Regions from separate parts of the Homo sapiens genome. Here regions 1, 2, 3, 4, 6 and 7 are each linked to region 5. Evidence: fine-mapped expression QTL. A gene starts in region 5. Each other region holds a variant in brackets. All regions are shown on one strand. Distances are between the middles of the regions.

Region 1 (4,431 bases), 48 kb after region 5:
AAATGTCATGCTGCTATTATGGGCGGTTTTGCCCAGCCTGTGAGACAGGCAGAGGCTCTTCCCTTGATCTACACAAGAGATGGCACCTGTTTGTTTAAGAAACTCATAAAACAGTGTGGTGGGCTGACAGGTGGCCCCAGAGAGACAGGTTGCATCCTAATCCCCAGAACACAGGAATGCCACCTTATGTGACAGAAGAGAGAATGTTCCCTTTTATGGCAAAAAATGTGATTAGGCTAAGGATCTTGAAAAGAAGAGCTTATCCTAGATTATCTGGGCAGCCCCAAATGCAATCATGTGTATCTTTTTAAGAGAGAGGCAGAGGGAGTTTGGGGACAAACACATACAGAGGACAAGGCGATGTGATGATAGAGGCAGAGATTGGAGTGATGTGGCCATCTGTGAGGAATGTCAGGAGTCCGCTTTGGATGAAGCGGGGAAGGACCCTTTCCCAGAACCTTCAGAGGGAGTATGGCCCTGCCGATGCCTTGATTCTGGACTTCTTACCTCCAGAACTGTGGGAGAATAAATTTCTGCCGTTTAAAGCCATCAAGTAGGTGGTAGTTTTTGACAGCAGATAGAGGAGAGTCATTCACAGAGTAAACTTCTGCACTGATCTGGCCGGGAGAGGATGCAGACAGCACAATTCCATTTCTGGATCTGATCCTTCTGAGGCTCCAGGGGCCCAGTGCCTCTAGGTCCTAATCCAGTTCTCAGTGTTCTGGACATTCTCAAGGTCTTCTCGCCCTCCTGGCTTTCTGGGCAGCAGCCCCTTTTCCATGTCCTGGACTAGGAGCCACCAGGGCTGGGCAGGTGGCCTTGTAAGAGTCTCACTCACGTCTGTTCTGCACAGGTGACCAGGGATTTTTCTCCTTTGCCCAGAGCTTGAGAAGCAACAATGCCCATTCCTACAGGCAGGGACAGAAGAGGAGAAAGTGATGAGCTTTGGGTTCAGAATGGCCCACGTCTGGGCATCTCAGCGATTCTGGCCCTTGAGCCCTCCCCATCTTTTCCATGGGACTAATAATAACCAGAACAGTTCCTCCTACTTTTCATCCTCTCCACTGAAATCCCCTCTCCTCTGGAACTTTCCCAAGTATTTGTAGAAGATGTCATTGCAGCCTCCATGGTATGGATGGTGAGGACTTGGCAAACTAGCAGAAAAGCCTCATAAAATGTCTATCCTAGCCAGGCATAGTGGCTCATGCCTGTAATCCCAGCACTTTGGGTGGCTGAGGTGAGTGGATCACCTGAGGTCAGGAGTTCAAGACCAGCCAGCCTGACCAACATGGTGAAACTCCGTCTCTATTAAAAATACAAAATTTTTAGCTGGGCATGGTGGTGCCTGCTTATAATCCCAGCTACTTGGGAGGCTGAGGCAGGAGAATCACTTGAACCTCCGAGGCAGAGGTTGCAGTGAGCTGAGATTGTGCCATTGCACTCTAGCCTGGGCAACAAGAGAGAAATTCTGTCTCAAAACAAACAAACAAACAAACAAGCAAACAAACAAAATATCCATCCCGGGAGACAGCCAACAAAAAAGGTGAAAAAATAAAAAGAGAGCGAGGTCATTCTAAAACGTAGTGACTACTTAAGAGAAAGAAGCAGAGAGATGAGATGTGGAGGGTCAGGACAATGTGGTCTGGGCTGTACCTCTTGTACCTGTTGGCATCCTAGACCCCAGGAGCTCAGAAAGTGGTATATTTGCAGACTGCATCTGTAAAGAAGCCATTAAGTTAAAATGAGGTCATTAGGGTGGGTCCTGACTGGCATCGTTATAAAAAGAGGACATGAGGATACAGACACACAGAGGGATGACCATGTGAGGACAGAGAAAGGTGATGGTGTCTACAAGCCAAGGAAAGAAATGTTGGGAGGAACCAACCCTGCCAACCTTGGTCTCAGGTTCCAGCCTCCAGGGCAGTGGGAAAATAAGTTCTGTTGTTGAAGCCCTTTGGGCTAAGGTGCTTTGTTGTTGCATCCCAAGGAAACCAACGGGCAGGCACAGGTGTAAAACACCTTTAGAGAGGTGGACAGAAGGGGTGCCCTAGGGGCCGGTTGGTGAGACATGATGTGCTAAGGGTGGGGAAGAACCTACCAGGCAGAGGCATGACAA[G/C]GAAAATGCCCCAGCAGAGACCCATCCACATGGGGTCTTGTGGGCCACACTAAGGGGCTTAGGTTTTGCTCTAAGAACTCAGGAAATTATGGAAAGATTTTAAGGAGGAAAGCGATGGATTTGGTTTACACTAAAAACAAAGAAGCCAAACAGAAGCCACTCTGGCTCCTTGTCGAGAGCAGGCTCTGAGGCATGAAAAGCCGTGGGAAGATGGGTGGGAGCTACTGCAGGAATCCAGGACTCTGATGGGCCCACGATGGGGGAAGTGCAGCAGATACAGCAGGTACAGGGATCTCGAGCCTTGCAGTGACCCAGCCAGAGAGCCACAGAGCTGGGTGAGGATTTGAGTGTGGGAGGAGAAGACAACACAGTATCTGGAATGATTTCCGAGTTTTGGGGTGGTCAGATTCATTGAAGGGTGGAAGAACAGTGAGGGACAATGCCAGGGCAGGCAGGAGACCAGGCTGTCCCTGGGACATGCTGAGCTTGAGATGTATGGTGCTTTTTCAAGTGGAGAAGTCAAGCAAGCAGCTGGATGTGTGAGACCAGAGCCACAGGGAGGAGAGAGACATTTGTGAATCATCAGTCCATGGGGTGATTTAAAACCATGGGGTTGGATGATGAAGTTAGAATGGGTGGAGATAGAGATGAGAAGGAGTCAGGAGGGAGATGGGGTGCTCTGATCTCTAAAGACTGAGCTGAGGAACAGGAGACAGCAAAGTAGTTTGGGGAGGAGCTGCCAGGGGGGTAGGAAGTGACCCAGGGAGGGGTGACATGAGAAAAGGATGACCTGCTGTGCTAAATACTGCAGAAAGGTTGAGCATGATGAGGACAGACACGTCCCTTAGATTCAGCCACGTGGAAGTCCTTGGTGACCTTGAAGAGGTTAGGTTTTAGTGATGAGGATGGAATTGACCACATGCCAGGCAGGTTGCTGCTGCTGAGAATCAGGAACAATTCCTGGAATCCACTTAACCCACTGCTTGGCAGAGCATCAGTCATTTCAGCCCCCGTTTCTAAGAGCATGTTATTATCAGGTCATGCTTGAGATTCTTCCAGCCGTGAGGTCTGTTGTAAGCACCGGTATGGGCAATGTGCAAAAGAACCTTGTTCTCCAAGGGCACGCGCCCTCAATTTTCCCAAGCAGTTGTTGGGTTCTTGCTCAGTAAATTCTCTGGGTAGCATGGGAGCTACATAATTAACATTCCTGTTTTCTCCTTTTCAGTGGTCTGGTCAGCCTCTGGGACCAGGACAAAGGCTCCCGAAGAAATGTGATAGCCAGAGGGGTCACTTTCCCGATCACAGAGCCTCACCTCATCATTAACATAGTCTAAACATGTTGGAATGGCTGGAGTCACCCCTTACGCCCCCAATAGCTATGTTACAGACTACAGAGGATGTCTGGAGGCTGCAGCCCAGAAGCAGGAGCCCAGAGTTTCAAAGTCCCCTTGCAATGCTCCTGAGGGTTATTACATTAAGTTTGGAAGGTAAACCAGCAGGCTCAAAGGTTTCTCCGACCTTTGCATCAACATAGATATTAAATATTATATTTTTGTATTATGTTACTATAATTAGATATGTATACATACAGAGATTCCAAATTATGTTCCTGTGCATTTGTTAACTGCAAAACCAGAGCTGCCTGTTGTTCTCCTATGTGACTCCTCTAAACCTGAAAATCTTTGCAAACACCTGTTAGGGAGACACCCCCAAAATACAGCCAGAGTTGGACAATGAATTCTGCCATTTTTCTGTCGACAGAAGATGATTCAACTTTGAAAAACATGAAAGCAAACCCCTCCAGGGGTAGTACTTACTTGACCTTGAATGGGTACTAGGAATGTGGGGAGTTGTCCCCGGCGGGGCTCCGAATGGTCCCTTTCTGCAGTCAACTATAAAGTTCCCTGGAATGTCCCAGCTCCCAAGGCTGCATCTGATACCAAGCAAGACTGAGAATTGTTCCCAGACAAGAATCCTCATTGCACCTTTAGAAGTCCACCCACCCAACCTCTAACCAGAAAATAGATTCCTATAACATTGCTAATGGGTCATGGGCCGAACACGTCACTTGAGACCCTCCAGGTTGTGAGCTGTGCCCACCTCACATGGTGCTTCCAATCCTCTTCCTTGCTTGCACTGTAAGCATAGAGAATCAGGCAACGAAGTGTGATTGGAGATCATGGCTGAAACCTTCCACCGGAGGCAAGTTTGGCTCTGACGCCAGAGATGCTGCTGACTCTATTTTTTGCCTTTTCCTGGTTGAAAATGTTTTGCAAGCCACCAGCCAAGTTGGGGTTTCAGTATCAGAACAGTTG
Region 2 (4,431 bases), 100 kb before region 5:
ATAACTGAGACTGGGTAATTTATAAGGGAAACATGTCTAACTGACTCACAGTTACACATCACTGGGGAGGCCTCAGGAAACTTACATTCAGGAAGGGGAGGCAAACATGTCCTTCTTCACATGGCGGCAGGAAAGACAAGTGCAGAGCAAAAGGGAGAAAACCCCTTATAAAACCATCAGATCTCATGAGAATGAGAACTCACTCATTATCACAGAAACAGCATGAGGGTGATCACTTCCATGATTAAATTCTGCCTCCCACGGGTCCCTCCCACAACAGGTAGGGATTACAGGAACTACAATTCAAGAGGAGATTTGGGTGGGGACACAGCAAAAGCATATCACACACCTTGCCTCAAGATATTATAGAAAAGCACTCTTCACTCATTCAATAACTGCTTATTCAGGACCTACTGTGTGCAGGCACTGGGCTAGACCCAAAGGCTGCAGTAGGGGAACAAAAGCAAGCAGTGTCCCCATCCAGAACAGGCTACAAACCAGGGTGATGAGGACACCAACCAACCAATCACAAATACTCATGCAAGTGCACCTGTGACAAGAGCTTCTACAACAGGAGGTACCATGAGTGTCTGTAGTAGACCCACTCCCCAGGTACCTGTGATGTGTTTCCATGGTGATCCCAAATCCTCACCCCCTCCAGCCACACTCATGCCAGGATGCTTTGCAGTTGTCTGTGGGCTGGGCCAGTGTTGGGAGCAAGGTGGTGCATGAGGCTGGCCATTTTGTCCGTTTGCCATCATAGTGAGAACATGCCCAGCCCAGCCCACGGGAGACTGAGAGACCCATGGGCCACAGCTGACAGCCCTAGCCCCCAGCTGAAGCCAGCCCAGATCAGCGAACAGCTGGCCACCCGGGGGCATGTGAGTGAGCCCCAGCAATACACTGGTAGCACTGCATGCCCCTGGGTCTGGTGCTGTTTGTGGCATTTCAAGGCATAGCTCACTGACAGGGGAGGCGGAAAGGGGAGGGGTCTGTGCTGAAGGCAAAGGAAAGGATCTTCTGAGAGAAAGACCAGAAGTGAGGCGGCCTCCACTGACACAGAGAATCAGATGTCTCCAGGAGCCACATGAAATCCTCCCAGCCTCGCTCGGGCTCCCTTATCACCTCCCCAAACAACGACTCATGTGTGAGCCTCTGTGTCAGGCTCTCATCTCATTCCAGGGAACCCCCGGCTCTGCCACAGGCATGGGGGAAAGGGCTGGGGGCAGGCAGGTGTGGCTGCATGACAGAGATGAGGCTAGGGAGGGCTAGGGGCAGCCTGAGGTTCCACACTTGGAGGGGGCACTGCAGGCTCCCTACCCTCCCCAAAGACCCTTCTCAGCATTCTGGGAAAACCCACAAGGATTCTCTGCTCAAATCAAGGTGGGAATTCTTTGTAGGAAGCTTAGTTCCCTCCTGGAGAGTCACAAAGCTCAGGTTTGAGAGGCCTCCAGAAAGCAAACTTGTTTCAGAAGGTTTGCTTAACCCAGCATCTCACAAATTTGGCATCTGCACTCTTCTTGCACAGAACCTAAGCGTCTGAATCCCAGGAAAACAAAACCTCCATGAACTCAGCAGGATGTAGTCTCAGAGACAGGAGGGAGCCTCTCTGTCTTGGGTTCCACTCACGGCAGGCCCTCCAAATCCAGCCATCTCTGTTCTGCCCTAGACCCTCCGTAAACATTTGTGAGTTGGAGAGAAAGAGCTTAGCTTGGGAGACATTGACCCAGGAGGGCATTACTTGCTGCTGAATCTTGGTCCAGACAAGCCCCTGCTGAGGAGTTTGGGTCAGAAAAGGTCAGGCCATGCCATGAGACTACCGCACACCTGGCCCAGGCACCCTGAGCACTGGTCCTGGGCTCCCAGCCAGGGATGCCACGGTGCGGACATAGTCATTTCACTCCTGCAGCCCTCCCTGAGCTGCTTTCGGCAGGGCCAAGCCCCTCACCACTGTGGGCTGCTTCTGTTTTGGGGCCCGTGATGTGAAAAGGGGACCACACTTCTATTTCTGTGTTGAGAGGTGCTTGCTCACTGATGCAGCTGCCAAACTCCACC[C/A]AACTCAGTGACAAAGATCCTCTGCCTGGCGAAACTCTCATCAGGCTCCTGCACCTTCTCCTAGGCTTGTCTGGGCACTTCCTTATGCATATGCTAAGCATAAGTCTATGCTTAGCAAAGAACCCTGCTAAGTGAGTTTAGCCAAAACCCCCACCCTCCATATCTGATCACCCTCCATTTCTGATCCGTTGTCATCCTTCACCCTTCCCCAGGTGACGTCTGATCAACCTGGCCTGCCTTCAGCAAGAACCCTGTTAGGTGGGTTTAACAGCCAGAACCCCCCTTACTCCAGTGTTTCCTCCTAGTCGTTTTTAATCCCCCCACCACCCCGCCCTACCCCTTGGCTGCAAATTCCCATTTGCCCAGGCTGTGTTCTAAGTTGAGCCCAATCTCTCTCCCCCATTGCGAAATCCCACTGTGTGGTCCCTGTACTTGCTGTGATGGCCCCAAGTAAAGCATTCCTTACAAGTAAAGCATTCCTTACTGCTCTCTAACAAGTCTCATTGAATAATTTTTCCTTTAACATCCAAGACATGCCTTCCAGTGAGGTCTGAGTCAAACCCCCGGTACTAGACTGAGTCCATGGGCAGGCAGGGGGTGGGGGTGGGGGCAGCTTAATCTCCCTGGAGCAAGGCCGGAAGCTTGCAAACAGAGCCCCGTGGCCAGGCAGGGTGCTCTGCCTGCAAAACCCACTGGCAGTGTCAACAGAGCCAGCAGGAGGGAGACGGTTATCCCCTTGTTTCATTAAAACCTCTATGCAGCCAGAGAGTGGGGAAATTGCAATGCAATCTTAAGTGTGGGGGTGGTGTGAGAGAGGAGGGGGACATGTGAGAGTCCCCCGCACCCACTTCCCACAGGGGTTCTGAGTGCTTCCTGCTGCAGAATATTGTTAAATTCAGTAACAGCTGCTGTCTTTATGACACCAACAGCCATTTTATTAAAAACAATAAACAGATAAATAGATGCACTCGAAAGGCCCCCAGTTACCCTCCCTGTTGCTCTTGGACAGTCACCTGGTGCCCCTTCTCCCACCAGGACAGGAGTGGGCAGTGCCACCCAACCACGGCTCCATGGGCTGCAGGGAGGGCACATGGTGAGAATCCCTGTGCTCATACCACCTGGCTCCAAGGCAGAGACACCTGGTGGGCCAGCTGGGGGTTCCTGCCCAGGCAGGGCTGATCTCCCTGCATCTTGCCCACTGGGGCTGTTGCAAGTCAGGACATGAAAGGCCCAGGGAGTGGTGGCTGTGAGCACTGTCCCCACAAATGCCCCAGGTTGAGATGAGGGGAGAGCAGGAAGGAGGACCCAAGGGCAGGCAGCACAAGGGAGGCTCGCTCGCTTGGAATAAGGAAGCCATAGGAAAACGGCCACTCCTTGCTTTGCGCTGGGGTCCCAGCAACGTCTTAATCCATGTTTCCAAGAAGGCCTTTCAAAGCACAAGACTGAGGCCCCGTCACCGAAAACAAACAGAAACAAACAAATAGACAAATGTTCAGTTTCAGTCTGGAAAATCAGAAGCTGGGAATTCCCTGTGAGTTTAGAAGACGTGAGATGTTGTCCTCTCATCCTCAAAGTGGCAGCTGCTTGAGGCCAGGAAGCCATCCATGGTCTGGGAAGCTTGGAATGGAGATTGGGACTGTCAAGGAGGATGGGCTGCCTGAGAGACTGGAAACTCACTTTCTCTCCACATAGTCCCAACCTAGTGGGTAGCCAGAAGGGAAAGGGAGTCTCTGCTACAGGAGAAACTGCCTTGAGAGCAAGAATTGGCAAACTTTTCCTGCAAAGGGCCAGAGAGTCAATAGCTTAGGTTTTACAGACCATACAGCTTTGGTAGTAACAACACACCCCTGCCTGTGTAGCCACAGACAAATGTAAACAAATGAGTGTGCTATGTGCCAGGAAGTCTTTAATTGTGGACACTAGAAATAGAATTTCAAATAACTTTCATGTGTTGCAAACCGTTATCCTTTTAATTTTTTTCAACCTTCTAAACATGACAAAACCATTCTTCGTTCCCAGGATGTACAAACGCAGGAACCAGGCAGGATTGGTCCATGGACTATAGCTGGTCAATGTCTGATTTAGTGCCATGAATCATCTCTATAGCTTTTCATGCACAATGTCTAGCATTCAACACAAGATTACCAGGCACACCAGGGGACAGAACCAAGCGAACAAAAACCAAAGAGAAAAAACAAAAGACAAAAGACATAGTCTCATAGAATAAGTAAGTATTGGAGTTATCAGACACCACCTTTAAAACAGCAGTTAGGCCAGGCGTAGTGGCTCACGCCTGTAATCCCAGCACTTTGGAAGGCTGAGGTGGGCGGATCACCTGAGGTCAGGAGTTCGAGACCAGCCTCTCCAACATGGAGA
Region 3 (4,431 bases), 320 kb before region 5:
TATCTGCCTCCACCTATGCCTATGGTCTCTTTTTTCCCATTCCTGCCCCAGCCTTTCTGCCAAGGAGCCTCGATCTGCGGTGTTCTTCCCCCGATGGCCCTGCCTGCTTGGCACCCCTTGCCTTCCGCACCCTGCCCAGGGTCATGTTCCCCTTGAGGCCTTTCCTGAGTCCCACCACTTTGTTTCTTTCTACATTCACGACCACTGTCTAGTGCATTTTATTATTGTACCCATGTACTTTGCTGTCACCTCTCTCCCCATTTAGAAGTTACCTCCCTCTGGGCGTGAGGGAGCTTTGCATCGTTTTGTCTGTTTCATTCCCTGCTCTGTCCCCAAAGCCTAGAATAATAACCAGCACATGGCTAAAGGCCAGGAAACACCTATTGAACTAATGAACAAACTTGTTGAGGAAATTAATAATAGATCACAGACTAACTTAGCACAGTCTCAGGCCTAGGGTAAGCACTCAATATACGTTGGTTTATTCATCAGCTTACTAATTTAGTAAATAGAAGGAAGAGGCAGTTGGTGATTTTCATCTGCTTTACTTTATCCAAATAAATTCTGAGAGGAAATGTTTTTATGATGGACTAGTACTAAAATCTCCCCACATGTTTCATGTGGGGTCAGCCCATTCTGCCCAGTGGAGATGGGACAGCAAGATCCAGTTTGAAGCATTTGCTATCAATGGCATTGAAGTATCACTGAAGGATCTCCAGAGCCCAGCAGCCAAGAAGGAATGCAAAGAGCCCACAAACAGAGGTTACTCCTCAAAGCCACTGCCCCTTTTGAAGACAAAAAGTGGGGGATGTCACAGTGCTACAGCCGAAGACCAGGACAGCCTGAGAGAAGCACAGAGTGGTTAGTAACAAGAGGAGAGCCAGGACTTTGCTTATAAGCTTGCGCTACACCCCATCAGGATTTCCCCGGGAGCTTTTTCCTGTGCTGGGGAATAACATGAACGTGCCCATCAGTGCAAAGGGTGCAGTGAGGGCAGGAAGTTACCGTCACCTCATTAGGTTAACGAGACACAAACCTCCAGCCCCTGTGCAGTGAGATACTGGTGACCGCCCTCTGACGTCTCTCCATCCTGCCTCCCCAGGCTGTTCGGATGGGTGGGGTTCAGATTCATGCTGTTTAGGGCAGGGCAAGCACCCTGCAAGCACAGAAGGCTCTGTTTCTCTGCTACTAGAGAAACCCACACCCAGTATCTTTGCACACTGCTGTCTCTTGTTTGGGTGCCGCCAAGTGGAGGCCACGGAGACTCAGTAGCAAGATCACGTGCTCCCGGCATCTGGTCAAGCCATCAACAATATGGTGCTGTTTAACACGAGGTCGCTGCGGTGCCCCATCAACACAGTGGGACCTCGTTAAATGTCATCTTATTTTAGAACTGGAGAGGATGTAGGCACCACGGAGTTCAAGGCCCTCATTCAGAAGCAGGACATCTGAGGCCCAACTCGCCCCAGTGGCCCTGCCTGGGGCACAGAGTGTCTCACCCAGCTTGCTATGTACTGTTCCTTGGCTGACCCTGATGGTGACTGTAACTTCCTGCCCTCACTGCACCCTTTGCACTGATGGGCACATTTGTATTATTCCCCAGCACAGGAAAAAGCTCCCGGGGAAGTCTTGATGGGGTGCATTGCAAGCTTATATGCAAAGTCCTGGCTCTCCTCCTGTTATTAACCACTCCCTGCTTCTCCCAGGACCTCTTGGTCTTCAGCTGTGGTGCTGTGACATTCCCCGCTTTTTGTCTTCAAAAGGGGCAGTGGCTTTGAAGAGTAACCTCTGTTTGTGGGCTTTTTGCATGAAACCTAACCCCACTGGCACCCAGAAAAGCAGCAGAAATACTGACCCAGGGAGTCAGTTTGTGCACCTCCATTCCTGCCTCTGTTGAATGGTAGTAGCCTTGGTCTCACAGGGGCACTTTCAGTAGAAAAGAGAAAGGGCATCTTTTCACCCACAGGCATTGACGAGGCCCCTGTCCTTCTAAACGTATCATGTGGAGATGATTCTGGGGCCAAAACCACTGGTAGGAATCCCAACTTCACTGCTTTCTTGTGCTGGTCAGATGATTTAACCTCCGGAATAACAAGACCCACTTTTGTTGAGCCCACTGTAGGTCCTCCCAAGTCCTCACTGCTTTCTTTCTGTGTCCTGACCGAGTAGCCCAGAT[T/G]GCCTTGACTGCTCTGTGACCCGGCCAGCTGCAGGCTTTCTCCTACAGGCTTGAACCCAAGCTGAACTCTGGAACATTCCCAGGCACTGATAAAGTCGTTCAGGTTGTTGCTTGCAGCAGTCAGTGAGAGACCACGTTGCTAAACATGTAGAAACCAGTCCGACCTTGAGCCAAGTTCCCTAAACCCTCAAACGCCAGACCGTGACCTCATCATGGACATACGTGGGCAAAACATCCCTTTCCTTGCTTTCTGTCACGGGGCTTCAGCCGCTGTATGTAAATTCCCCCGGTAAATGCTTTACAGCAAGGACCCCAGCAATTGTTTCTTCTCCCTCTGGAATTCCAGCCAGCCCCATCTCAGAACAGTTTGGGGCTGTCTCTTGCAGGAACTCCCCTGCTGTCAATTTTGGAGTGACTCTCGCCATGGGTTTGGCCAGACAGAGCACCCTTGCAAGGCATGGGTTACCTCACTGAACGCTCACAGCAACCCCAGGGCATGGATAATCCCAGCAGGGTATCCCCATTTTACAGGCAAAGGAGAGGAGGCTCATCAGAAAGGTCTCACAGCCAGGAACTTGTGGAAGCAGCTGCCTCCCTGGTCTGCCTGCTCTGCCCACTGGGTTCTAAAGCCTTGCAGATTCATGAGGACTCAGTAACATGGGGTAGGAAGAGTGTGCACTGCCCAGGGAGTGCTGAAGGTGCAAGGAGATAATACACTTGGGATTCACTGGAGCCCCACACCCCACAGCTCAGAACAAGGCCGCTGGAATTGCCGATTCCTGTGGTGTGGGAGGGGGCCCTGGCTCCAGTCGGACACTGCCCCCAGGTTTAGTTAGTCTGTGTCTAAGAGAAGAAGAGGTCAATACATTGGGAAGGAAATGTCGGGAGGGCCCCACTCCAGGCCCCACCCCTTGGGCCTTTCATCTCCGATTCCATCCTCACCTCCGTCTATCTCTCGTGCCGCCCCACGTGCGTCTTCCTCCTGGGTGGAAACGCGGCAGCTGGGGTGACTTGCAGAGGCTCTCGCTTGCGTTCCTGGGCTCCTCCTGGGATAGGGAGAAGGGTCTTCAGGCTGGAAATTAGAATAAGGAGACGTTCTCCCTTGAATTTAATTGCATCTCTGTCAGTAATTCAGCAACCATCATTTGCACACACATTTCTGAAAGGCTTTTCAAGGAATTTCAAACCCGCCATTTAAAATTCTCATTATGGTAGGAAATGGTCCCTTTGGGGCCCAACAGTTTTCTCTTTGGTCTCACGGTCCCTGGAGGTACGGATTTCAATTTAGAGTTTTCCACGTGGAAACTGAAGGAGCTAAGGCTCGCACATGACTCCCCCACCCCCTACCCCCGCCCTGAGCAAACACACTCGTTTCCAAGTCAGATGAGCAGCGAGAGAAAACATTCATCAAACTTCAGTAGTGTAATGGGTCTTCGCTGCTGGAATTAAATGCAACAGGTAGATAGGATTATGTTTAATGCGTATTTACTGGTCGATCTCTCAATTTGCTGAAGAACGTTAGTAACAATTGGTAACAAACGTTCCGTTGATTTATATGAGTGCATACAAACCCGGAAGAGCCCCACATCTCCCCCGAACCATGCCTGCATCTCTTGGGAGACTCTCACTTTCAAATAATCTTGTTAGATATTGTTAGAAACTGATAGATTTGCATACCGCGAATGTTAAAATTCAGAAAATACTCAACCGCCAATTACAGCCACCACGTCTTTCCCTAATTAATCAGTCAGGAAAGAGCAGCTCCAGGTGCTTTTCCTGAGCTGAGCATCCGCCAAAGCCTTTGTCTTTATTAATCTTGATGACCCACCAGTCAGCATAGGCAGGTCCCTCCGAGATGACGGAAAAGCGGGAACACCTCGGGGACTCACACCTGTGCCAAGTGATGAATCCTCCCGACACCTGATTAGATGATTCCCAGTTCTGTCTACTTCTGGACATGATAAACATCAGAGACTGCTCAGGGACAAAGCTAGCACCCCTGAGGCTCTGGATGGTGCAATTCCTAATCCAGTGAATTTCGTTCTATGCCTCCTTCAGGAGGTGCTCCTCATGAGCACCTGTCCCATGCCCTGCCCTGCAGACTAAGGGACAGTGGAAAGCTGTGGAGCAGAGCCCCCTCTGTGAATTGAATGAGCGTCCCTCAATGAACAAGCCTGCTCATGTGGAACACAGGGACAGTGGTGCCTGTCAAGCTCAGAATGGGTGGGGCAAACTTGGTGAGAGGGAAACCTAGA
Region 4 (4,431 bases), 82 kb before region 5:
CCCGCCTAGAGTGCTCTCTCTTAGCTCCAGACCAGCTACCCCCTAATCACCCTCCCCTTGTTCAGAGAGAGGCCCCTCACGCATGCTAACTCCCCAGTCAATCCACATTCTTCTTGCAGAGACTCTTATGCTATCTTGTGTATTGACTCAGTCTGCTCAACATGGTTGACAATTACGCATTTATTTGAGTGAATTTCCAGACAATCACCCTTGTGGGCCTGCTAGCCCCATGAGAGCAGGGCCCCTGTTGTGTTGATCATGCCTCATCATGCATGGCCGTGGCCTGCCATGTGGCTGGGGGCTGCATGCTTGAAGGACGCCTGGGCTTTGGGTCCCATTACTCTTCTGAAACATTAGCAAGACAAGAAGTGTAACATTTGGAATGAGTAAAATTTGTACTCAGTACCAGGTAAAATCAAGCCTGGGAAGCTGTTTCCCCCAGGCAGGTGCTTTGCACACCTTTGGAGTTTAACCAGCTCTTGTGAAACTGAGTTCTGGGCTTCTTCAAAATCCACATGGAACCATGGGTGCAAAAGGCAGCTGGTTTTGGTTTTGGTTTTGGTTTTGGTTTTTTTGAAAGAGGGTCTCGCTCTGTCGCCCAGGCTGGAGTGCAGTAGTGCAATCATGGTTCACGGCAGCCTCAATCTTCTGGGCTCAAGCGATCCACCTGCCTCAGCCTCTCGAGTAGCTGGGACCACAGGTGCATGCACCACTACATCCAGCTAATATTTTAAATAATTATTTTTGTAGAAAACGGGGTCTCACTCTGTTGCCCAGGCTAGTCTTGATTCCTGGGCTAAAGTGATTCTCCCACCTAGGCCTCCTAAAGTGCTGGGATTATAACTGTGAACCACTGCACTTGGCCTAGAATTTCTTTAAAACCCACAACAAGGGCCTCAGGAGTCTGGGACCTGGGCACCCTGGCCCTGCCTATGCAGAGGCCTAAGGAAAGGATGAGCTCGCAGATCTCGGGGGGCTTCCGTCTCGGGGGGGCTCCCGTCTCTGCTTGCACTTGCACTGCGTCCTGTTGCTGCACCAGGAAATCCAACACGAGCCCCAGAAAAAAAAATCTCACCCCACAGGTCCCCATCCTTGCCGGGTAATCAGTGCTATGGCATTTCCCTGAGAGAGGTGAGGGGCCGAGGGGTGGGTGGTGACGGGGGCTTGTCCAGGGACTCGGCAGAGCCAGGGGGCAGGCTCAGGCTCAGGCTCAGGCTCATGCTTTTTCCCGACTCTCTGCTCTGCCCCAGCCTCCTCCCAGCCTGGGTTTGGTGAGAACCTTCCCATCCCAGGGGTGCCCATCCACAGCCCCATAGTAAACTGCAGGCAGGGAAAGGACGCTCTCACACAGCATCCCACTTTGCTCGCGATGCTGCAAACAGGCGTAATAATTCCCACTTTGCCCAATGCAAGTGTGCCAACTCCAGTACATTCAGAGAGTTGCTCTAGTTCATTCAACCATTTTTCTCTAGATGATGGCTGGATTAAGCGGGGCCCTTGCTTGACCTGGGCATGAAAATAAGCCCCCGCAGGGAAGAATTCTCAGGCCTCAATCCACCCCCAGTAGTCAGCCCTGGAGACCCATGTCTGAGTCCTAGGGCTGCAGGTCCATGTAGAAGCCCTCTTTCCAACCAGCCCACCCAAGCTGTGCACTCCAAGTTTACCAGCGGCCCCCGCACGTTCTCCACAGATACACTGGGATAACTAGGGGTTTGAGCTACAAGGCCTTTTCTTTATTCTTTAATTTTCATTTGCTTATTCAATAAATACATATTGAACTCCCTACGTGTGCAAATTGCTCTGCCGTGTGCTATACAGAGGATAAAAAGAATCAAAAAGCACATCAAGGCTCGGGCCTGAAGGAGCTTGCAGGTTCACTGGGGAGTCAGGGCCTCACTTTTAATCCTATTTTGCAGTTATTTATACATATAAATACAACCAGGAAGGCAGCATGAACATTTGAGGAAGGAAGAGATTATCGCTGGCCACAGAGGATTAGAGGAAGATGTGTGGGAGGGGAAGTACTTGTGGCTGGTGTTTTTGGAGCAGAGTGAGCTGGGAGGGGGTAAGATGTGACTGGCAGAGCCAAGACCGTGGGAAAGGGAGGGCTGCGCACAGCGCAGCGGGCAACAGGAGGCCAAGGGAGAAGGCGGTCACAGCCTGGAAAAGAGGTGAGAGAGCTTGAACTTTCTTGGGGTAGGCAGTGGGGAGCCAATGACAGTTCTTGAGCAGGCGAGGGG[C/G]AACATCAGAGCTGTGGTTTAGGAGAACTGATGGGGCAACTATGTGAAAACTATTTCTGTCAACGGTCTCAGGGACACCTCTGCAGCCTTTACCATGTGCCAGGGCACATCCCAAGCCCTTTACAAACATTAACTTTTTCTCCTGACAACCCTGGGAGGTTGGCATTTTTCTTACCCCTGTTTTCCAAATGAGGAAAGTAAGGCGCAGGTAAGGCAGCTTGCCACTGTAGCAAGTAGGGAGCTGATCTGGGGCCTTAAGGAACCTCAGCGCCAACCCTCTTCCTCTAAGCTCTGCTCCCCTCAATCTGACCAGCAATGGCAAAGGCTGAAGATCACCGTGGAGACCCTCAGGAGGCGGGCCCCAGGGCTGAGCTGCAGTGACACAGGGAAGGGGAGCCAGCTCCGAGGCCAGAGGCAGGGGTAACAGGGGCTGTGCCCCATTTTCAGGAAGATGGGACCCCGGAGGAGGCGGCAGCTTGTCGAGGGGCTTACTGAGGCTCAGATGGCTGCACTGCATGAGTCAAGCCAGGGTAGGGCTTCAGGGAGCAGAGGAGCAGGGAGGAGCTCACCTCACACCTCACACAGCAGGCAGAGGTGCCCACTGTACAGCAGGCAGCCTGGGAGGAGAGACCTCCGTGTGCAGCCTCCTGAATGTCCCTGGCTATTCAGTGGGCTGTCTTATCTTTTTAAACCTTTCTGAGCTCTTAGGCCAGTGCCACAGGCAGAATAAAGCTGCCCACCCGGTGCAGTGGGTGCTGAGCCTGCATACCAGGCTCCTTTCCTGCAAAATTGGATGGGCGAGACATTCAACCAGGAGAGTCCCAAACCTGGGGCCCAAATTGGTCCCCTCTCCCAATAGGCGTTCTCACCCCACTGATGCACATCGCACCCTCCCTCCCACACGCTCCAGGCTGGAATTCCAGGGATGACTTCTCTCCCCATCTCCCCTATGTGAGTGTCACGGAAGAAAAGACCTGCTGTGACCAGCTTTTGAAGTGACTTCAGCCCAGTATGCTTTTCTTGTCTTCTTCTAGCAGCCAGGAGGCCTGGTCCCACCATGCCTTGCGTGCTGTGGCAGGCTTTTGTAAGGGTGTGCTCCTGCCGCTGGTGCGGAGCTCACCCAGGTGTAGAAGAGAAGCCCCTCTACCCGGCCCTCTATCACCCTCAAGGGTCGCCAAGCACGCGGAGCTCATACGTGTAAGCAAAGCAGGACGGCTCCCAGGGAAGTTGAGGTGAAGACGGCTGCTGCAGGCTGAGCTCCATCACGCGGCTCAGCTTGCAGGCGATGGACGGAGGAGTCGAGAAACAACATTGCCATCTGTGCCGGTGGACAGAAAGCCAGATGGAGGCTGAGTGCTCGGGGAAGAGGAAACGCCACTGTTTCGGGCCTCGGAAGCAGAAGATGCTTCCCGGGCCTTAGAAACCTTGTCCGGGGGAAGGTGAGAGCCTTGGCCCTGCCACCATCACTGACCCCTCTTGGGTGCTGCCCTTCTCCTTCCTTCCAAGAACACCCGAAAGACAGATCATGCATCATATTCAGCATCGCCCACAGGTGCCACTCCAGCCCCATCCAGTGCAGTCCGAGCTCCTGCAGTGACGAGGCCTGACATTCATTCATGGGCAGACCTGGACAGACTCCTTAATCCCTGTCTCCACTTCCTACTTTGTAAAATACCATACGCCCAAGGGATGGTGGAGAAGACTGAAGGAGATACAGTCAGATGAGTGCAGGCTGTCAACACACCATCCCTGGAACCTAGGTTTGAATCCTGACTCCACCCCCTTCAGGCTGTGTGACCTCAGGCAAGTCACTTAACCTCTCGGGGCCTCTGCCTCTGCTGATTTAAGATCAGAGGAATGCCTTCTTCCCAGGACGTGTGTCCTGTGGGCCTTATGAGATTTAATTCAAGTCAGCTGTCAGAACCTGGCTCCCAGTATGGACGCAGCGCTGTTAATAGTGAGGCAGGAGGCTCAGTAGGGCAGGCCCTTCCTATTCCGGGGCTCAGCTGAGGCACTCCTTTCATCTAAGAAGGAGCATCTGAGCGGGTGCCTCTCTTCCTCCACACAGAACAAGTGCATGGGTTCAGGGCCCTGGCAGGTCTGTATTTGGATTTTAATTGTCATGATTGAAGGGGCCTTTTGCAAATCGCTCTCGCTTTTCCTGGGCTGAGCCAAGTCAATACTCGGTACG
Region 5 (4,431 bases):
CAAGCCTAAACCTTATCTAGCCCAAGCACACTTATCGATTCACGCCCGACCAATATCCCACACCCAACACAATCGGCTCCATGATTAACCTTTGAAGCCCACAGCAAGATCGGCCACTGAGAGAAGGGATGCTAATAATAACATCTGACAATGTTCACTAGATGTGTTACACAGTATTCACCTCTGGGAGCAGAATCGGCTCATAAATCAAGGGTCGCTAGAAAACACTTGGCGTCCCAGTCCCCTTCCGATTTCTCAAAATCAGGACACGCACTAGATCCTCCCTCCCTTCGCCTCACTCCCCCCGCAGCTTCATCCCTGAGTGGGGGCGGCTCAAGCAGCGGGCTAACAACTACTGGCCTTTTCGTCCCCAACGCGGGAGCGCAGTGCATCCCAGTGGACAAACTCGAGAACCGCACGCTGCTCTCCGCCTCCACCTCTGTCCTCCCCGCTCGCGGTTCCAACCCGGGACCCAAATGCACGAGCTCGGTGAATGCCCCGGCAGGAGGGCGAGGGCTCAGAGGCAGCCTGCCCAGCAAAAACGACAGCTGTGCTCTGGTGGGCCCTGGGCCACCCCAGGCAGAAGCCAGAGAAGCCCGAGAACCCCGGCGGGCTGGCAAAGTTTGCCGAGAAGGGTCTTTCTGGACACCCCCACCACGGGCTCTAGGCTCGAACCCCCTCTTCCATCTGGCCCTGGAGTCCCAGACACAGACAAGCCCCGGGCGCGCCGGCGGGCGTATGTGCGTGTGTGTTTACAGCGGGGTGGCCGCCGGAGCTCCCCAAGAACCCCAGCTCTCCCGCCCCAGCTGCCCGCCAGCTGTGAGCGCCCGTCGGGCCCGGAGGTCACCCGCAAACAGCTGGGTCGGCAGCTGGGAGCCTGGGAGGCCCCTGCTCAGCCCCGGGGCCCCGAGAAAGGAGAAGGGGGAGCGGAGTGGCTGTTTGGCTGTGGTTTCCTCCAACTCCGCCTGCGAAGCTCTCGCTGGGAGCCCGGAGCTTTAGCTTTCCCCGGCAGCCCCGGCCCCCGCGCCCGCCGCGCCCAGCGGCCGGCGCCTCGCCCCGGGCCCCGGGGAGGAGGCGCGCCGGGGCAGCCGGCCAGGACACTGCGCTGCTGGCTCCTAGAGCTGCGGGCGCGCCTGGCCGGCCCCACTTCCCGGGTTGCTGGGGCGGGCGCCGCTGCCCCGACCCCGGACGCGCGGAACCCTGGAGACCCGGCCGCTCCCCGCCAGGGCCGCGGTGCTGCTCCAGGCTCCGGGCGGGCGCCCCTTTCCGGCTACCGGTGCACCCCGTTGCCCGCTTGCGGGAAGCGAAGAGGGGTCCCTTGATTTGCAACATAGAGGAAAGCGCCGCTTCCGCCCAGCCTGGCACCCACGCGCCCACACGCACCCGGCGCCGGCCGGGTCGCTCACCTGAGTCCTAAAAGCTGTTGAATCCACATGGTCACGTTTCGGGGAGCGGGGCCTCAGACCTGGCTCGCCCAGGCCATCTGCGCGGCGCCCGCGCCCGCTCGCTTCCGTCCCGCGGCGCCGGTCTCCGGCTCTCGGTCCGCCGCCTCCCGCCGCCCGCCGGCCGCGGGGCGCACAGCGAGTCAGAGCGCGGCCGCGCGGGGCTCCATGCCGGCCGGCGCGCCGCCGCCGTTGGGGCGCATGGCTCAGGCTGGGCGGCCCGCGGGGGCGCACATCCTCCGGCCGGGGCGCGGGGCTCGCGGCCCCCTCCGCCGGCGGCACAGCGAAGGCGGCAGCGAGGCGGGGCGTGTTCCGGCGCTGTCGCGGCGCAGCAAAGGGCTGGGGAGCCGCGGCTTCGCCCTCCGGGGCGGCGAGGAGGGAGGCCGGCGGCGCTGCCGCTCACGGTGCGTGTCTCCCGGCGCGCGGCTCTTGCCTCCAGCCGGAGCTCCGCGCCGATGGGGCGGCGCTGCTTAGGGTTTGGGGTGACGCGACGCGGACGGACGCGAGTCCCCTCCGCGCTGCCGGGTCGGGGGGCTCTGCCAGAGGCTCCGCCGCCGATCGGCGCCACTCAAGTTGCCCGGGGGCTCCGTCTGAGCGCTCGCTCTGCAGACGGCCGCGGCCCGGAGACTGGCAGGAGGCGGGCACGAGAGGCGCGCGGGGCGAGGGCGCCGTGGAGCGCGGGGCGTGGGGACGCGCGGCGGCGGCGCCGCGCGGAGGAGGCGCGCGGGGATCCCGGGGCCCCGCCGCCCGCGCCCACCGCGCCCGCCGCAGAGCCGCCCGCGCTGCTCAGCCGCCTCCCTCCTCGCGTCTGCCTCTCCGCGCGCTCGCCCCCGCCTCCCGGAGCCGGTCCCAACTCCGCCCGCCCGGCCCGGCTCACGTCACCCGCCTTCCCCGCCCCTCGAACGGGAGCTCGAGCCCCTGGCCTGGCCCCGGCTCCTGCTCGCCGCCCCACCTTGCGGGGGCCGGGGTCGCCGCGGGTGGTGGGGGGCGCTGTGCCCAGCAGGGGCGACAGCGCAGGCGGGGCCTCCTGCAGCCCCCTTCCCCATCCCCGGTCGCGTCCCGGTCCCCACCTTGCGAAAGGCTCGAGAGAGGCCGCAGGCTAGGATTGGACCGCCGGGCGCCGCCGGATGGTGTTGCCAGGGTAACCGGATGGCACGCGAAGCCGTTCGAGGTTCCGACCCGGTTACGGGGGCGCCCAGTGGACCCGGAGAGCTACTTTGGGGAGGGGGCGGCCCCGAAGAAGGACTGGGTGGGGGCGCATGGAGCGGGGGCTGCGCGAAAAGTTTCCTGGGGCGGAGCTGAGCCACGCGGGCCGCGCAGGAGCGTCTGTCCGAGGGTCGCCTACGAGGGACTCCTCTGCTCGGCTGCGCGGGCTTCTGCGTTGATGAAGTCACCGCGTTCCGGGTCGGAGCTTCGGCGCTTCTGCCCCGAACCCAGCGAAGCCCGGTCCTATGCCCCCAATTACCCAACGGTCCCTCATCGCCCAGCGCAGCTGCTGCCTGGCCAGGCCCTTGCTCCGGAGGAGTCACTGGAAAGTTCCAGGGAATCTGGGCCTCCCGGACTCTCCACCGGCGTTTCACTGCTCCCTTCCCATGCCAGGACTCCTCTGTGCCTACCTGGTTAGTCTGTATTTGCAAAAAACAAACAAAAACAACAACAAAAAACAAATGGGGGGCACTTAAAGGAGGACAGACGCTGGGCGGGGACCTTTCACTGAGAGAAGTGACATGGGGCGGAATCCTCTGCAGACCCGCTGACGCCTTGAGAAACCACGGCAAAACCCTGCTTTTAATCCTCCACAGGCTGAGGGCAGTGCAGAATCCGGGCCTTGGAAAGGACACTGGTGCCACCCTTCACTGGGGAAAGGTGCAAGGGGCGGGGGATATACCATGCCGAGCCTTCGCTCTGTGCTCTGTGCAGGTGCTTGACCCAGGCCAGCTCTGGAATCGCCCCAGGCCATGTGAGAGCCGTGGGGGGTGAGAGGGGCGGGAAGCACTTCACAGGTGAGGCCTCCCTGGGAGGGGCAGCCAGTGAGGGGGTGGAAGGGCAGAGCCAGGAGGACCATGGCTTGGGGCTCAGTCTCCCAGGCGAACCATAGCTTGGGGCTTAAGTCCCCCAAGCAGCCCTTTCACCCCCAGGCCTCCAGGATCTTTGCCAACGGTCTTGAGGAGCCAGGCACAGGATTGGACTCTGCCCGGGCAGGAGGATGAAGACAGTGACTTCCCCACCAAGACTCCCGGCAGAGGGCCAGAGGCAGGGAAGTGTGGTGGCAGGAGGGCCAGCCTTGCCGTGGCTGGACCAGGGGCCAGCGCTTGCTAACTCGGGGTCCTGGCCGAGTTGTGTGGCCTCTCCGACCCTCGGTCTCCTCATCTGTAAGATGGGTCCCACAGCCCCTCCCCGGGGAGGTGTTTGCAGGGCTCCATGAGAAGGCCTTACACACACTGTGGCTATGGTGATCTGTGAGCCGGTCAGAGGACCCGAGAGGCAGCAGGGTGACTCAGCAGTTTCCCTGCCGGGCCGCCCCTGGGTCATCGTCCCCTAGAGCCTCTCCCTGAGGGGTGTGAGGGAGCGGATCCCATTAAGAGGCGAAGGAGGCAGGGAGGTCCTGGAACCAGCGGGGCCTATGGCGGCCGGCGGGGAAGGAGGCGCCGGCAGTGCTGCCACCTAGCGGTGTGAGGAGGCGGTGCTGCACCAGGGAGGCCCTTCCTGCAACCGGAGTGGGCCTGGAAGGGGCCGGCTTCGCACACTAGGAGCCAGCAGGGCAGGGAGGGGCTCCGGACCGGACCGTGTCGGCTCCAGGAACCCCTTGGGCAGCCTTGTGGACACCTGCTGACCTCTCTCAGAATGGCTTCTAAGTGCATAGATGAAAAAGCCCAGGATTATTAGGAAACCAATTCTATGCAAATGCATTATCAAAAGAGTAATAAAAACAAATTTCTGATATAGCCGTATATATTATTTATTAATACACTTAGTAAGCAATTGACAG
Region 6 (4,431 bases), 59 kb before region 5:
TCCCTGGCAGCCTGCTCTGCCTCTGACACTGGCAACCCTCTCTTCCTCAGGCCATTCTTGCTGGGTATAAAAACAACGAATAAGTATGGAGAATTGTTCAGCGCCAGGTGCCTTATTTTATGCTCAGTGTTCATCCACTAAACTCTCACAGCAACCGTTTAGGAAAAATATTTCTTTTTTTTTTTGAAATAAGTTTCACTCTTATTGCCCAGGCTGGAGTGCAATGGCAGGATCTTGGCTCACCGCAACCTCCACCTCCCAGGTTCAAGTGATTCTCCTGCCTCAACCTCCGTAGTAGCTAGGATTACAGGCATGTGCCACCATACCAGGTTAATTTTTTGTATTTTTAGTAGAGACAGGGTTTCTCCATGTTGGTCAGGCTGGCCTCGAACTCCTGACCTCAGGTGATCCATCCGCCTCAGCCTCCCAATGTCGGGATTATAGGCGTGAGCCACTGCACACGGCCTATTTCTAAGCCTCAATTTTGCTGGTGAAGAAAAGAAAATCAGGAGAGGAGAGACCTTTTCCAGGGTCACACAGTGACATGCAACAGAGCCCAGATTCTCTCCCAGATCTTCAGCCTCAAGGCACCTGCTAACTAACTGCAGCAATTCATGGCCTCCCAGATTGCAGCTCTGGAGTCCCCAAGACCACTTCTGCTGCCTTAGATGTCTGAGAAGTGTGAGTAGTGTTCACGTTCCACCAAATGTTGGGGGCGCAGGTCTGCATCTGATGACTGCCAAGCAAGGGGGTTCCAGGGAGTTCAGCCCTCTGTCCCAGCACTCCTTCCATCTGGGGAAGCTTAAACAGTTGTTTTCCTCCCCCTGCCCCATCCCCCTCTACTTGGGACTTCAGATAAGGAGATTATGCAGCCTGTTCTCAGTAGCCTAAGCAAAGATCTCACCTCCTGCATCACCAGCAAGTACTTCCCAGTGTGTAACCTAAATTGTTCCTGCTCTGGTCTAATTCATTTACATGGTACCCACTGGGCTATGAGGAACCCAGTTAGGGGAATCATCCCCGCATTTCCTCTCTTCCCTTTGCCTTGGCTGGGAAGCTCAGGATGGTGGCCTAGCCCTGATGAGCGCTGCTGTAAACCACCTGTTCCCTTCCCTGTGGCCCAGCATTGCGTTCCAGAATTAACATTTCTCTGCATTAGAAACAAACACACATATTTTCCTCTTTTTAGATTTGTTTTGCTAAACAAATTAATCTAGCACCAGATTATATTATGAAGAACCATAAATCGCTTCCAAGATAAGCATCTGTCGAGATGGATTAGCAACATCCAATGCACTGTGAATTAATTTGCTAAGCCTACAACGCTGTCCCGGGTGTTTAACTTTAGTAATAACAAATGTAATTTGGAATAAATGGGAACTTGTTTCCTCATCCATGTCTATATAGTAAGTGACGTATACAGAGGAGGTGACAGTAAGGGAGAGTAGCAAGAAATCCTACTATGATGATGGCTGCTGAGTTTACTGAGGTAAAAATGAACACTCTGTAAACTGCTAGCAGGCGCCTGACAGTGCAGGATGAGCTGCAGACCCCGCATGTCCGTGGATTCCCAAAAGAGGCTGCATGGGAGGAAGCCGATGCAGGACCTCCAGAGTCTCTTCCTCCGGAGCCTCTTCCTCCAGAGCCTCTCCCAAGCCCACAGCCTCCATCTCTGGGCATGGCCCTCAGCATGCGCAGGGAGCCCAGGCTGTGCTTCCATAGAGACATTGCTCTCTAGGGAAGAGGAGCTCAGAAAAAAAACCGCAGGTTCTCTTGTCCAGGTGAAGGAAGAAAGTAGGTCACCGGCTGAAGGACAAAAGCCACCCACCCCATGAAAACCTGTCCAAGGACTGCCCGGTGCCTGCCTGCCCAAGATGAGGAGGAACCAGGGCCAGGACGCAGTCTAGTGAGGACGCAGAGGGCCTGGATGCCATGCCGGCCGCCTGCACATGAGCTCTGAAGAGCAGTTCTCTTCC[C/T]TCCCCTTGATTCTGCAGAGGCCTGGGTGGGGCCTACCGAGCCCACAAGCTGGAGGTTGTGGAAAGCAAGCTGTGAGGAGGCCACAGGGCGCCCCCGCCCACTTTGTACTGACGCCCTAAAATCTGCATCCGATTTTAAAGTTAGCAAATGTTGCTGTTTGTCTAGAATGTGTATGCACAGATCTAGGTTGTGAACTTCTGAGCCAACCTGGCACATCGGGCTGTGCCTGTTAACAGAGGCAGAGAAAACTGGAGGGAGGTGAGGGTGACGGGGTGCCCAGGGCTCTGCGCTCTCCCCGCAGGCCTGCTGTGAAGCCTGGTGACATCAGTGCAGGCTACCAGTTCAGGGACAAGCCCTGGCTTGGGAGATTTCCAAGGGCTACTCCTTTCAAAGCAAATGGAGGACAGCGTATAGGAGGAAAATAAAAAACAACAAAACTGCACAGAAGGAGATATTCCAAAGCCAGTGAACTGTGTGTGTCCACAGGCAGCTAGGATAACAGCAGCAGAAGAACCAAAGCCCTTTGTTCTGATCTCCGTCCTCCAAACACCCTCCTGACACATCCCCAGGGAGCCGAAAGGTGCCACCTGAATCACTGTCTGCGAAGGTTCTGTTAACACCGCAGGAAGTTCTTCCTTTTACCCAGCCTCGGCCTTTCTTGCTATTTAAGGCCATTCCTAATCCTCTACCGAGGTCAAGTTGGCAGGCACCCTGCCCCCGTCCATGCCCCCGTCCATGGGTCCCATACCCTTGAAGGCTTTTGAAGACTCTGGGGCGGGGGGATCCTTAATTGTATCACGAGACGGGCAAGCATCTTGCTCAAGGGCCGGCCCCAGAGACAAAATTCTCTGATTCTGGAAGGCGTGGCTGTGTGTGGTGGATTCCACCGGTCTGTAACAGGGCTGCAGCACCTGGTGGATTCAGCTGGTCCCTAACAGAGGCACAAGGGGTGCAGCGCCCACTTCTAGGTACATACTAAAAAGGGAAACTCTCCCTTCTCACGCCCCCTTCCTCTAAGGCACAGCCTGTATTTGCCAGTCTACAGGCATGTGCAAGCTCATGGACACATCACGCCTGCATCTCCTGGAGCCTCCACACATAGCATCACCCAGGGACATCTAAGCATCTCTCCCGAGTCACGCTCCCAGCCCTCAACCCCAAGCAAACCCAAACCAGAAGAGAGATGGCTGTACCTGAGGCCTCCCCCAGAATCCTTGGGGGCTGGGTGACTTCCCCGTTGTTGCTGGGACTGGTGGAAGGCTCCGTTGTGCTAACCCCACCTGGGATCCTTCTCCGGGGATCCAAGGACTCGGTGAACCCCTTAGTCTGCAGCGTCATGGGGGTGGCCGTGGTGGTGGTGGTGGTGGTGGCGGCCACAGTTGTCTTCCGTGTTTGTAGGATGGAGACCGTGGTGGGGCCGTAAACGCCCGGAAATGTGTTGGACTCCAGGGCCTCCTCGTCCCCCGTGGGCCCCCAGGCGATGAACTCAGTCTCTGTGGTGGGCCGGCTGCCTCTGGAGTCGAAGCTGCTGAGACCGTCCCCCTGCAGGTGCCTCTTGCCCCTCCTCAGGAGGGCCTGCTGCTCCGGGGCCCCACCGGCCACCGCGGAGGACGAGGACGAGGACGAAGAGGCGAGGGAAGGGCTGGATTTGGCAGCAGCTGGGGGCTTGGCCAGTCCTGCCTTGGGCACGAGGGCGGCCGCCTGGTCCCGGGGCCTGTGGGCCCGTCTGGCTCGAGGCATCTGCATCTGCCCGTGGATCCGCTCCACTCGGGGCGGCCGGGGGCTCCACACCGGGGCCGGGACCCGCGCTGGCTGTCCACTCCTAAAACTCCACAGCCGGGGCGGCCGGGGCGGCGACCGCGGCAGGAGCCAGAACTCCGGCCCCGGGCCCAGGGCCTCACAGGCGGGCAGGTCCACGGCGAGCTGAAACATGGCTATCAGTATCCAGGCATGGCTTCCGAGGGGGCGGCCCGGCCAGCGGATGGACATGGAGCTGTGCGGGGGGGAAAGGAGAGAAGAGCGGTCAGTGGAAGCCCAGGAGGGGGACTGGGCCCCGGGGCCCTCTCTCTCCACCCCGCGCTGTGACAAGGACGCTCTCTTCTTCTGGAAAGAGCTCCTCCTAACTTCAAAAGGGAATCCGAAACCCTTCCTTCCTTTCCTTCAAAGGCTCACTCACGTGCAAGAACAGCGCGCGCTGCGAGGGTGCGGGGAGCTGCTTCCCGGCACCGCGGGGCTGAGGCGCCTGCCAGGCACAGAGCCGGCCGGTCGCCGAATAGTCCATTTCACGCGAGCGAAAACCGAGCCTCAGAAACCCCCAGCCTTTCAGGGCAGCCTCGACAAGATAACCTGAAAAGACCTGTGAGTCCCTCCTTCCTTTTGCCCATCACACGACGAGAGGACGTAAGTGAGAGGATGGCAGCAGCGGACACCGGCCTCCACCTGGGACCCCAGGGC
Region 7 (4,431 bases), 540 kb before region 5:
CAGGCTCTCCCTTGCTCTCTCAAGCCCAGGCCACCAGGGCTCCTTCTCTGCAGGTGGCTCATGTGGTGCAGGGTGGGCCCCCATGGGCAGCACTGGAATCTCTGTGTAGAAAGGCAGCAACTGGCCCATCAAGGGCTCCCTTCCTCTGCCATGGGCCATGAGGTGATGATGGCAGGAACCAAGATCAAGTATCCCAAAAGTAATCTGTGCTTCTCACAGCAACTAAGAAATGCAATGTAACTTTTCATTCCAAGACTGTAAGATTGATTAACTCTGAGTGGCAAGCATAGACAGCAGCATGGATAAAATCACCTTGACAAGATTTTAAGGGGGCATGGGATGTTGAATGGATGAGTTTCCCTGAAACTTTAGGTCTCTTGTGTATCCCATCCCCCATGCCCTAAACTAACTGGGAATATGGGTCTTGGAACAGTTCTTCTTGTGTTGGTTCATTCATTTTTCCTTGTTCAAAGCTGCCCTATTCTCTTTGAAAAGATATTTTATAAACATTGTGGTTCTAGGATTCTAGACTTAGCCAAACAAAAACAATTTCTCCTCCCCAAACACTCCAGCTCATAAATATGCATTAGGTGCCTATCATTTACAGCCTGGTATATGGCACATGGGCAGGGATGAGTGAGGAGGGCAGCAGGTGATGAAGGGAAAATGGGGTGGAAACCCTGAGTGCAGCAAGCGTAAGACCCAGCCCTTCCTCATGGGATGCGAGCCCTAAGGAGGCTAGAAATATCTTGACTCCAATGAGTGAATCAGAGGCATTAGCCCTGACTCTGTGTCCCCATGATCAGAAAAGTGCTATCAATGGCAGTGAGGCTAAGGTGGTGTGGGCGCCACAGGTTGGGGAGGTCAGGAGCAGATTCACAAATAAGATGAAACTTTAGGTCTTGAACAAAGGGTGGAATTCAGAGAAAGGAGGAAGGACACACCAGCCGTGGAACAATGGACACAATACCATGGGGAAAACAGCCTTGAACTCAGACGGGAATGACCAAGGATCAACAATACCAGCATTCATTCCTGCTCTCTGTGATGTCAATGTGCCATTTGATTTTCATGGGGCACTCATTGTAGGCTAAAAATGACTGGAGGATGTGAGGCCCCCCCAAGCCTGCTGTTTGTCTGAACAGGGATACTGCAGGGAGATTAGAAGCATCCTCAGCTTGTGAGTCTGCATTTGCCCCCTGTCTTCCCACAACCTCTCCTCTTTGCTTTCATCTGCACAATGCCATGGAGACACCCTCTCTACTTTTTGCATCACCCTGACTTCCCTCCCTCTGAGATTGGCCAACGGGAAGTACTTGCAGGAGGTCAAAGACCGGGAGGTCTCTACTCAGCACAGTTAAGGAAGTGGCTGTGACATCTAGCAGGTGACCCGTTTTTCAGAATTCCTGCTCTCATGGGACTCCAGTAGCACAAGCCTAGGGATGGTAAAGCCTTTCCACACTTGCCTGGGTACCTTACTATCTCTTGTTGGCTCCTTTAACTTCATCTATCTCCTGTCTTTTGTTTCCTGCTAGAATCTGACTGATACACCTTCCTTTCCCACTTACTTGAACATCTGCATCAGGTAAGTATTTTTCAGTGAAAGTGACAAATCCACTTCAAAGTGTCTTAATCATTGAAGGGAATGGATTGGTTCATAAAACTAAAAAGCTCAGGGGTATCTAGCTTCAGGCACAGTGGTATCCAGGTGCTCTGTGTCTCTTGGCCCTCCTTTTCTCTGTGTTCACACGAGCTCTTCCCTTGTCAGAGGCCAGAGAGTGATCATGAATTCCAGGCTGGCGGTTCCACCAGCTGAGTAACCACAGTGGAAAAACAACCTCTCCTTCCAACAGATTCCCTGCAGAAGCTGTGCTAGTTGATAATCACTCTTGATTGGCAAGACCTGACTCACATGTCTACTTCCGGATTGGGGATGAGGAAGATGGGTGGGTGGAAGGTGCACAATGGGCAGACCTTCCTCCGCCGCAGAAACTGGGAATGGGGAGTGTGTATTTTCCCAGTGGAAAATTAGGAGGAAGAGAATGCTGGACAAGTGAAAATAAAAGATGTTTGTCCTGAGCTTGAACCTGGTTTATGGAACGCTCTCAACTCAGTGGAAATTTGTTCCTCAATCTCTTTCACTAACCATGCTATGTTAAGCCCTCCTTTCCTGTTACTTAAGAATGTCTCGGTTGCTGCTGGTCATTCAAATTAGTCCAGTCCTGTTTAAAGTTCTAATTTTGTAAATGTTTCAACACTCTTCTTGACCCTGTGTGGCCCAGACCCTCAGCTAAAGAACTTGGATATGGTTGTGTGTGTGCCCATGGGGTGAAGAGGGGGCGAGGAAAGAGTAGGTCACTCCTGTTCCCTCCACCCTTTTGTAGTTTCTAACAGGGATGTCCAAGGGAAAGAATACAGGCATGGGTTCTTAGTTTCTGTTTCTGGCTGG[G/A]CTAGTAATGCCCCCTTTTCATCCCTCTTTTCTGCTTATCACTAGAGACGGAAACTAAAAAACCACAGCTTCAGGCTACTAAAAGCCTCAAAAAAAAAAAAAAAAAGCAAGACAGAACAACAGTAACAATAACAACAAAATAAGGTGGATTGGACAAGCTTGGTAACACCTCTGGTGTCGGGGATTGAAGAGGGAAAACAACGGTCAAATTATGCAAGGAGCAGCTCTTGGTAATGGTGAGCTGTCCTTTGTCCTGAAGTGGCTCAGTTGAGTTATGGCCTCTGCTGATGAATGTCTCTGTGCAGAGGCTGAGTGTGGTTTTATCGGGGTGTGATGTTCCTTCTTACTGCAGGAGCCTCCATCACTGAGGATGGCTCAGAGGGATGCAGGTCTCCACATCCCACCCTTCTCCACCTGCAGCATCTTCACGGCATCTCCGTAACTCCTGCATCCTCCTCTAACCTCCGTAATTCTTCATATGAAACCAAGGGAATCCCAGAAGATTTCTCTGTGAACTCTGAGAGTTGTGGAGGATCAGGGTAAGGTGGGAGTTTCTCCATCTTCCTTCCCAGACCCAGTACATGCCATTTTCACATTGTCCTGCTGGAGCTGGTATTTCAGCAAGTTCTTTGGCATCAGGTATAAAATAGGCATAGATCTGTGTTCAGATTTCCCCTCCCAAATTCAAGAGATTCATGTCATTCTCTCACAAGGACCCTCTTATTATTGTGTCCCAGCATTAGAGTGGGTCTGCAAGCCTTGCTGGAAATGAATGCTCAGTAAATCGGTGACCACAGAATTGATTGGCCAAACCTGGACACTTACGAGAGTGAGAGGGGATGCTACTAGAAATGACTCTGAGACAATGGGTGAATCTGCCCCAAGTGAGCCAAGATGTGCAGCCATCCTATCTGTAAGTGATTCTTCTAGATCCCTGAATTAGTCCATTTTGCATTGCTCTAAAGGAATACCTAAGGCTGGGAAACTTATAAAGAAAAAATGTTTATTTGGCTCACAGTTCTGCAGGTTGTACATGAAATATGGCACCAGCATCTGCATCTGGTGAGAGCCTCAGGAAGCTTCCAATTATGATGGAAGGGGAAGGGGAGTTGGCGCATCAGGTGGTGAAAGGAGGAGCAAGAGAGAGATGGAAGGAAGGTGCATACTATGTAAGCAACCAGCTCTCTTGTGAACCATTAGGGTGAGAACTCACTCATTACCATGACAATAGCACCAAGCCATTCATGAGGGATTCGCCCCCATGACCCAAACACCTCCCCCAGGCCCTACATCCAACATTGGGGATCACGATTCAACATAAGAATTGGAGGGTACAAATATCCAAACCATATAAGTACCATCCCCCCTCCCCCACCAAATACACACTCTCTAGGTGATTTGGGATAGAGAAGAGTGAAGCTCCCCTCCATCAGAAAGAAGGAAATGACCTCTTACCATAACCCCATGTTTTTCTTCCACAATCCCCAATCTGCCAATCCTGATGCTTCTCACTCTCTTCCTGTCTCAGGTTCTGTGCAGGCTTGGGAGGAGGGTTTGGCAGGGCAGCTCATGGGAGATGTTCCAGCTGCCTCAGGACGCTCAGATGATGTGTGCTTACGGCTTCCCAGGAGTTCTCTTTAGATGTGTTTGAGTCTGAAAAGAACATCGTGTTCTCCTCAGATGTGCTCACAGTTCTGCAGGTTGTGCAAGAGGTATGGAACCAGCACCTGCTTCTGGTGAGGGCCTGGAAGCTTTCTTCAGTTTTGGGGACTTAGCAACAATTATGAGGCCATAGGAACAATCTACCTAGCCTAGTCTCTCCATTGCAAGCAACAGGAAAAAGCCTTTGGTTAATTTAAATAGCAAATAAATTTATCCAAGGACACTGATGACCCGCCAAATATCTGGGAAAGCCAGAGAGCCAGGTTTGTGAGCTACGCAACAAAATGACACCCCAGAATTGGTCGTGCTCCGCCGATACT

Alleles and levels. Positions count from the first base shown, and alleles are read on the strand shown. Sizes are in standard deviations (SD) of each study's normalised expression. Not every link is listed here.
In carriers of allele C in region 1, the expression in lung of the gene that starts at base 2,252 in region 5 tends to be lower than with G alone (small effect, 0.28 SD a copy in GTEx).
In carriers of allele T in region 3, the expression in ovary of the gene that starts at base 2,252 in region 5 tends to be lower than with G alone (moderate effect, 0.47 SD a copy in GTEx).

Evidence for each region. PIP is the estimated chance that this variant, and not a neighbour inherited with it, causes the effect.
Region 1: its variant is fine-mapped to the expression of AJAP1 in lung (TOPMed, PIP above 0.99).
Region 2: its variant is fine-mapped to the expression of AJAP1 in unexposed skin (GTEx, PIP above 0.99).
Region 3: its variant is fine-mapped to the expression of AJAP1 in ovary (GTEx, PIP above 0.99).
Region 4: its variant is fine-mapped to the expression of AJAP1 in whole blood (TOPMed, PIP above 0.99).
Region 6: its variant is fine-mapped to the expression of AJAP1 in whole blood (TOPMed, PIP above 0.99).
Region 7: its variant is fine-mapped to the expression of AJAP1 in pancreas (GTEx, PIP above 0.99).

Annotation. Positions count from the first base shown.
Region 1 is chr1:4,604,120-4,608,550 of GRCh38, reverse strand. No RefSeq gene overlaps it. Among named protein-coding and RNA genes, the nearest start is that of LINC01646, 35 kb to the right of the region's middle. The variant G/C (reference allele first, on the strand shown) is at 2,117.
Region 2 is chr1:4,753,767-4,758,197 of GRCh38, reverse strand. All of the region lies in intron 2 of AJAP1 (adherens junctions associated protein 1), which reads right to left. Among named protein-coding and RNA genes, the nearest start is that of AJAP1, 100 kb to the right of the region's middle. RefSeq lists an enhancer at 2,936-3,797. The variant C/A (reference allele first, on the strand shown) is at 2,056.
Region 3 is chr1:4,975,779-4,980,209 of GRCh38, reverse strand. It overlaps LINC02781 (long intergenic non-protein coding RNA 2781), which reads right to left. Exons shown (of 5, transcript XR_946902.2): 4 at 3,119-3,248. Among named protein-coding and RNA genes, the nearest start is that of LINC02781, 4.6 kb to the right of the region's middle. The variant T/G (reference allele first, on the strand shown) is at 2,177.
Region 4 is chr1:4,734,046-4,738,476 of GRCh38, reverse strand. The region is part of intron 2 of AJAP1 (adherens junctions associated protein 1); the gene reads right to left. Among named protein-coding and RNA genes, the nearest start is that of AJAP1, 82 kb to the right of the region's middle. RefSeq lists an enhancer at 4,098-4,431. The variant C/G (reference allele first, on the strand shown) is at 2,241.
Region 5 is chr1:4,652,430-4,656,860 of GRCh38, reverse strand. It overlaps AJAP1 (adherens junctions associated protein 1), which reads right to left and starts at 2,252. Exons shown (of 6, transcript NM_018836.4): 1 at 1,407-2,252. The coding sequence starts at 1,435. RefSeq lists an enhancer at 4,212-4,261.
Region 6 is chr1:4,711,439-4,715,869 of GRCh38, reverse strand. AJAP1 (adherens junctions associated protein 1) reads right to left here. Exons shown (of 6, transcript NM_018836.4): 2 at 3,171-3,970. Among named protein-coding and RNA genes, the nearest start is that of AJAP1, 59 kb to the right of the region's middle. RefSeq lists an enhancer at 4,263-4,431. The variant C/T (reference allele first, on the strand shown) is at 1,977.
Region 7 is chr1:5,196,806-5,201,236 of GRCh38, reverse strand. No RefSeq gene overlaps it. Among named protein-coding and RNA genes, the nearest start is that of LINC02782, 100 kb to the right of the region's middle. The variant G/A (reference allele first, on the strand shown) is at 2,450.